2 linked regions of the Homo sapiens genome follow. The protein of the gene in region 2 interacts with the protein of the main gene of each other region in a pairwise test. Each region holds a gene or a part of one and is shown on either strand. Other genes may lie near its edges. The genes, in order: TRIM9 and CHFR.

Region 1 (3,819 bases), on a different chromosome or scaffold from region 2:
TTATTTTGTGAAGGAAATTGAGCACACCAATCACGTAAGTAAAAGATAATTACAATAGGTATACTTGCCTAATTGAGAGTAAGGTGCAGATTGTGTCTCAAAATTGCATCCTATAAAGAGATACTACACATCAACGCTATGAAACAACAACCAGGTTGATAAAAATTACTTGTATACGCTTAAAAAGCACCAGTTGAATATAGATACCAGAGGCCTGATCCATGAAAAAACAAAGCCCTTTTTATATTATTTAGTTTGTTGGGTAAAAAACTGCCCCTCTGCTCTTTCAAAATGAAAAGCACATCTTTTTACCATTTAATAAATCCTCCTCCAATTGATCCTAAACTCTGTAGCTGAATTTTTCATCTTCCAAGTTCAATCTTTTCCTCTAAAGTTTCCACAGTAAGAAGGCTAGCTGTTTTAAAAATGGGGAAAATGTACTTAATTGCAACGGAGAAATCACTGGATTTTGATAAAACTCTGCTCTCACTATTCTATGCACTTCTAACTCTGGTTATGCCAAAAGGTCTTCATTGTGACTTGAGCCCAAATTAAATATAACTAAATGTGTAATGTAATCCATTTGTGAATACATACATCTTATTAATAATTATTAATAATGACATGACGAATGTGTTAAAACTGCCTCCTTTCCTTCTTAGGAGACAAGATCCTTCTCACCTGAGGGAGGGGAGGAGGGATGGTAGGAGTGGGTGTGGTCTCAGAGATACATTGGAATCCCCTGTGGAACTTTTTCAACCATCTCCCTTCCTTAAGATTTGGATACCTGTACCCCATGAGAAATTACATTGTGTGGAGGAAGACTGCCTAGTCTTAAAATGTTCAAAAGTGTGTGACCTACAATTTCCAGTGGTTTCAAGGACTGATCTAGAAAATGTGGTTTTGATGAACACTGGGGGATAAAGAAAGGATCATTTTATTTTCTTTTCTATTTAGTAAGGCCTTTATATGCTAATTCCTAAAACATTTGCAGGATAATGTGCTGACTTAAAAGAATTTTACAAGAATTAAAAAAGCAACTTACTATAAAAAAGGACTAATGGCTGAGTTAAAAACAAAATATAAAAATTATGATCTTACTTTTGGTTAGTTTGCTTTTCTCTGGGATGAATTCACATGCAAAAGAATCGTTTCCTCCCATCTCATGGCTGATTTTTATGTTTTGTTTCTATCAATTATCACTTCAATTCCTATTCATGTGTTAGAGCATAGTGACTATGGAATACCTGGAGTTTTAAAACCGACTCTCATATTCAGCTTGGAAATAAGTTTGTAGAATCTGAATAGGGCTTTAAAAACTTTTAAATGAATCATGCCTTGTGCAACTCTTTTTCAAAACAAATATTCTGAAATCTTTTTACACTACTTTAAATACATTATCATACATTTAAGATTCAACAATACAGCTAGAATAATGCTCTTAAATACACCCATCAAATATCCCAAAACTCACATTTCATTTTATTCTTGAGACAATGTGCATTACAAAGACTGTAACGATATTTCAGTACATTAGACACAAGGGAAAAGAGTTTCATAACAAAGCATGTTGGGAAGCCATAGTGCACAGAAAAACAATAAGAAACATAAAAGCACAAAGAAGAATGTCATTTTAAAGACAGCTTGAAGTCCCTGCATCCTTTTTGCACTGTCATGCTGTGGCCTTCTTCATTCCAGAATGTGGGATGAGCAAAAAGAATAAAATAAAAACCAAAAGAAACCTTTGGAAATATGAAATGTGCATCATGTGTATCCATGATTACAATATAGTCCTGAAGAGATCAAATAGGTCTGCATCTTATATATTTTAACATTCTATTTGCTAGGCAGTGTTCGCTACAAAGGAACACAAGTCTAGCTTTGCTGAAATCAGCCTTAGGCTCTGTCACAACCAGCTTGGCTGTGGGAAACTTCGAGGAGTCCAGACTTTTTGATTACTCAGATCTTTGGTCATTAGGCATTAGGAGTTAAGGGTTTCTAATTCGGCTAGCAGTGATCCCACCCCATTGCTAGGAAAACACTCAGCCATGAGCCCCACTGTCCTAGCAGTGAGCACAGGCTTTTGCAGAAAATGCTTTCACTTTCTGCTCTCTGGATTGCCTGCTTTATAGGATGCTTTCTGCTGTTGGTGTGTTTTTACTTTTATTGTACTTTGTCAATAAAGATCTCTTGAGTCTATGTTTAATCAGACCACTCCAGGCTGGATGCACTGATCCAGTCTCCCAGACACTGCTGGTTTCCTGGATACAGAAGGGCTGCAAACCTCCACATTACTGCCATGGCCGCCACTCAGCCAGCGCCCGTGCCGTGCTATGCCACTGCATGTGATGACAGAGCGGGTTATCCATGGTGGTACCAGCTTGTGCGAAAAGAATAACTTCACTCATCACTTTCTAATGCCGTAATACATGGACCACAGCTCCATGGTTGCTCCTTCCACCACACAAACAAGAACGCCACAAAGCTCCACCATCCCGATGCTCCTCATACGGAAAGCAGGCCACAGACAGAGACTAGCTCATCCCCCTCACCACGCACATGAATGGCAAGAACAAGACACGCGTTTCAGAGATGCCTTCAAGGCACAGAGATCAAGGGGAAAGGTCTGAGGAGCTCAGCTCACCCGGTGCATTGAGAGACTGTAAAGAGGAATGCAAGCTCAGCTGGTGGGGTGAGGATCGGAAATCAAAGTAGGATCTCCCGGGGAAGCTGGGTTGTAGATTAAGGGTGGAGGAGAAAGGACTCATTCTACGGAGCGGCAATCTTTCCGAAGGCACTGGAAAAGGGAGGGTCTGTTCTTCTGAATCTGTGTCTAAATGTAAGATCAATGCAAACTAGAGATCAGAAGTCTGCTATTATGTCCCCGTGCACGGTTCCCCAAGACCTGCCTTAACAATGCATTCATACAAAGCCTCATCTTTCCCACAGGGTGCCACACTCAGGCATTTACAAAACCAATGTGCCTGGGGGCAGGGAGGGAATTTTCGGCAGATCAGGACCCAAGACCAGAGGACACCTCGAACAACAAAGGCAATTGTTGTCACTTTCCCGATTTTTAGTGGTAGAAAATTGGAAGGTTTCCTTTTAATTAAATAAAATACTTTTAGAATTGAATGTACAAAATGTAAAGGCAAATTTTACCTATTGATGACCAAGAGGATATTATTTTACCCCCTTCAGTTGTCCTGGGAGTTACTACCTATTCAACAATGGCCTCTTAAAGGGTTTCTATCTAAGAGATGGTGATTTTTTACAAACTGTTTCCTATTCCATATTTTCCCATTTCTCTCCTAATGTGTATTTTTCTATTAGATGGATGAGCTGATTTTTTATACTAGCACACTCCAGACTCTATCTTTGAATAGGAGAGGAAATGTGGGGTGGTCTAAGGAAGACAGGGCTGGACAAGTAAGCAGGGAAAGAGCCTTACCTTTGTTTCTGAATTATGATCAGACTCTAGGGATGTCACTTGACCATCTTTGTTTCTCTAATGATAAACAGACTGTAGGCAGTGGTGAGGTGCATTGGTGGCAAAATATCTGTTTCTGTTCAGATAGTCAGGTTTGGCCTGAAGATAATTATTATATCAGACTAAAGACTTAACAATTATTTGATCTGGTTTTAGAAGGGCATGAGTTAGTTTCTCTGAATTACTAAAATTGGTCCTTTCTATTTTGTCAAACAATAGCTGGTTCTATGCACGGTGTGGTCTAGTCAGAGGTGGATCTTTCGCCAATTGAAGCCTTCTTAACATTCAGTCTAATAGCAATAATTTAGGAAATACAGATGGTAGGAAGG
Region 2 (3,819 bases):
TCCTCTGGCTCACACACTCTGCTCTGAGCCAGGGGCATGATTTACCTAATGTCTGAGGACTCACTGTCAACGTCTGACAGCTCCAGCAGGTCCTCTGAACTCCCTTCTTCATCAGAAAAAGACCGCCTGACTTTGGGCTGCAGCATGTCTTGAGTGATTTTATTTCTGGCATCCATACTTTGCACATCTTCTTCACTGCGACTCTTGTCTAGAATTGAAAGGACACAGCGCCATTCACCGGCAGTGAGACATGGCAGGCAGACACAGCTCACACTGCTGGGAGCTCGCGTGCGCAGTGCTGCGGAAGGAGGGGTCTGGGCGGACCGCCCTCACGTGCCCGGGTGCTGGTGGAGGGACTGCCCTCACGTGCCCAGGTGCTGGTGTGGATGCCCTCACGTGCCCGGGTGCTGGTGGAGGGACCGCCCTCACATGCCTGGGTGCTGGTGTGTGGATGCCCTCACTTGCCTGGGTGCTGGTGGAGGGACCGCCCTCACTTGTCTGGGTGCTGGTGGAGGGACCACCCTCGCTTGCCCAGGTGCTGGTGGAGGGACCACCCTCACGTGCCCGGGTGCTGGTGTGGATGCCCTCACGTGCCTGGGTGCTGGTGGAGGGACCACCCTCACGTGCCCGGGTGCTGGTGGAGGGACCACCCTCACGTGCCCGGGTGCTGGTGGAGGGACAGCCCTCACGTGCCCGGGTGCTGGTGGAGGGACAGCCCTCACGTGCCCGGGTGCTGCTGGGTGGATGCCCTCACGTGCCCAGGTGGTGGTGGAGGGACCGCCCTCACGTGCCTGGGTGCTGGTGTGGATGCCCTCACGTGCCCGGGTGCTGGTGGAGGGACCACCCTCACGTGCCCGGGTGCTGGTGGAGGGACAGCCCTCACGTGCCCGGGTGCTGCTGGGTGGATGCCCTCACGTGCCTGGGTGGTGGTGGAGGGACCGCCCTCACGTGCCCGGGTGCTGGTGTGGATGCCCTCACTTGCCTGGATGCTGGATGAGGTATGCTTCCACGAGGTTGTTGAGGATGTGGTTTTTACAGATCCGCTCCACGGGACAGCGGCAGGTAGGACACAGGGACGAGCGCTCCATCCAGCCCGAGTAGCAAGCCGCGCAGAACGTGTGCATGCAGGGCTGCAAACTGAAAGTGCAAGAGGAACAGTGTCCAGACAGTCCCACAGATGCAACCGCGACCCTCGACCAAGGTCCGCAGCAGCCCCACCACGGAAGGGCCTACAGGGGCCCAGCCATCGTTCAACCTAAAAACCCTTTAAGTCAGTCTTGGTTAATGAAAAGAAATCAGAGGCCACACGGCCTCTGTGTTTTCAGGAAAGACAGAGGCGAGTAGATTATGACTTCAGGAACACAAACAACAGAGACAGCAAGTGTTTCTGGCCCAGAAGTTGGAAGGTTGTCACTCTTGAGTTCCCGCGGAAAAGCAAGGAGGCCCTTCCTCAGCGGCTCCTACGTTCATTCTATGCGAAATACACCTTCCCAGATAAGGAGCATTTAAAATGTGCAGAGTTCCTTTCATCTGTTTGCAGAGTTCACGGGGTCACACACGACCCACACACTCAAAACTTGTGGGGTCTACAGCCTCCGGCTCTGGGTTCCAGGTTTCCTCCTTGTTGGTGCCACGAGTAGAATGAAAGTGGTAGCCATGCGGGGTGGCTCACGTCTGTAATCCCAACACTTTGGGAGGCCAAGGTGGGCAGATTACCTGAGTGCAGGAGTTCGAGACCAGCCTGGCTAATATGGTGAAACTCCCGTCTCTACTAAAAATACAAAAAAATTAGCCAGATGTGGTGACGCATGCCTGTAGTCCCAGCTACTTGGGAGGCTGAGGCAGGAGAATCACTTGAACCTGGGAGGTGGAGGTTGCAGTGAGCCAAGATCACACCACTACACTCCAGCCTGGGTGACAGAGCGAGACTCTAACTCCAAAAAACAAAAACAAAAACAAAAAACCACCCCGGGCTACATGGCGAAACCGTCTCTACAAAAAACACAAAAATCAGCAGGGTGGCTGGGAGTAGTGGCTCACGCCTATAATCCCAGCACTTTAGGAGGCAAACGTGGGCAGATCACCTGAAGTCAGGAGTTCAAGACTAGCCTGGCCAACATGGTGAAACCCTGTCTCTACTAAAAAATACAAAAAAATTAGCCGGGCATGGTGGCACACGCCTGCAGTCCCAGCTGCTCAGGAAGCTGAGGTAGGAGAATCGTCTGAACCCGGGAGGCTGAGGTTGTAGTGAGCCAAGACTGTGCCACTGCACTCCAGCCTGGTGACAGAGCGAGACTCCATCTAAAAAAAAAAAAAAAAAAAAAAAAAAAAAGGAATAAAAAATATTTAGAACATTAAAAAAAAAAAAAAAGTCAGCCAGGCATAGTGGTGTGCACCTGTAGTCCCAGCAACTCAGAAGGCTGAGGTCAGAGAACCGCTCAATCCTGGGAGGGAGAGGTTGCAGTGGGCTGAGAAAGCTCCACCCACTCCACCCACTCCACCCACTTATCTGGGTGACAGAGTAACCTCAGCAGATGCCAGGCCAAACAGGACCTGCAGGCTTGTCTCATGCCCAGCCCTGCCCCACACGGGACGAAGAACCTGCAGTGCCATGTTCCGTGAGCCAAGGGTGAACACGGTCGCACCTCACGCAGTCGTGCAGCAGGTCCTGGCAGATGATGCATGTCAGCGTCTCCTCCATCTTGTCTGGCTTCCCAGCCGCTGCTCTGACGTCCTCGTGGACGGTTTGGGCATTTCTACGCGGTTGTGCGACCAACAACTGCCCGTTCAGGTCAAGGTCCCCATCTACAGGAGAAAGGGATGTGTTCTGTCGTAACCAAGAAGGAAATACACGCAGGTTCAGGTCAAGGTCCCCGTCCACAGGAGAAAGGGATGTGTTCTAACTGTCGTAACCGAGAAGGAAATACATGCAGTCTTTTTTTTTTCGAGACAGAGTCTCGCTCTGTCGCCCAGGCTGGAGTGCAGTGGCGCGATCTCGGCTCACTGCAAGCTCCGCCTCCCGGGTTCATGCCATTCTCCTTCCTCAGCCTCCTGAGTAGCTGGGACTACAGGTGCCCACCACCACGCCCGGCTAATTTTGTGTATTTTTAGTAGAGACAGGGTTTCACCGTGTTAGCCAGGATGGTCTCAATCTCCTGACCTCGTGATCCACCCGCCTCGGCCTCCCAAAGTACTAGGGTAACAGGTGTGAGCTACCGCGCCCCACCCTCTTCTGGTGTTTTTATTTTTCTATAATGCTCAGATGTTGGTAATCAATTAATTTTTATTTTTAATTAAAGAAACTGTACACAATTTAAAAAGCCAAGTATTTAGAAGAAGCCAGGTGCAATGGCTCACAACTGTAATCCCAGCACTTTGGGAGGCTGAGGTGGGCAGATCGCTTGAGCCCAGGAGTTCAAGACCAGTCTGGGCAATATAATGAAACCCCATCTCTAAAAAAATGGGAAAAAAAATTAGCCAGCTATGGTAGCGTGCACCTGTGGTCTCAGCTACTCGGAAGGCTGAGGTGGGAGGACAGTCTGAGCCCAGGAGGTGGAGGCTGCAGTGAGCCAAGACTGCACCACGGCGCTCTGGCCTAGGTGACAAAGCAAGATCCTGTCTCTTAAAAAAATGTATACATAATATATTTAGAAGAAAACAAAGGCAGTCACCCTCCGTCTCAGCCGCTCCTCACCCAATTTCCCTCCTCGGAGGAAAACTATTTTCATGTCTTTGAGCTGTTTCTTCTGGTATTTACCTCTGTGTTTCTAAGTTATCATGGTACATTTGATTTATCAATTTTAGACATCATTCCTGACA

The links.
Region 1: the proteins of CHFR (region 2) and TRIM9 interact in a two-hybrid assay, tested with the Homo sapiens proteins (one large-scale study listed by BioGRID and IntAct).

The regions. Positions count from the first base shown.
Region 1 is NC_000014.9:50,983,312-50,987,130, forward strand, and holds part of TRIM9 (E3 ubiquitin-protein ligase TRIM9), read right to left. Parts: intron 2,856-3,819; exon of another isoform or gene 2,834-2,855; coding exon 2,645-2,833; coding exon of another isoform or gene 2,613-2,644; exon of another isoform or gene 111-2,612; coding exon 69-110; exon of another isoform or gene 1-68. UniProt on the Homo sapiens protein: E3 ubiquitin-protein ligase which ubiquitinates itself in cooperation with an E2 enzyme UBE2D2/UBC4 and serves as a targeting signal for proteasomal degradation.
Region 2 is NC_000012.12:132,856,423-132,860,241, forward strand, and holds part of CHFR (E3 ubiquitin-protein ligase CHFR), read right to left. Parts: intron 2,806-3,819; coding exon 2,646-2,805; intron 1,138-2,645; coding exon 983-1,137; intron 209-982; coding exon 46-208; intron 1-45. UniProt on the Homo sapiens protein: E3 ubiquitin-protein ligase that functions in the antephase checkpoint by actively delaying passage into mitosis in response to microtubule poisons.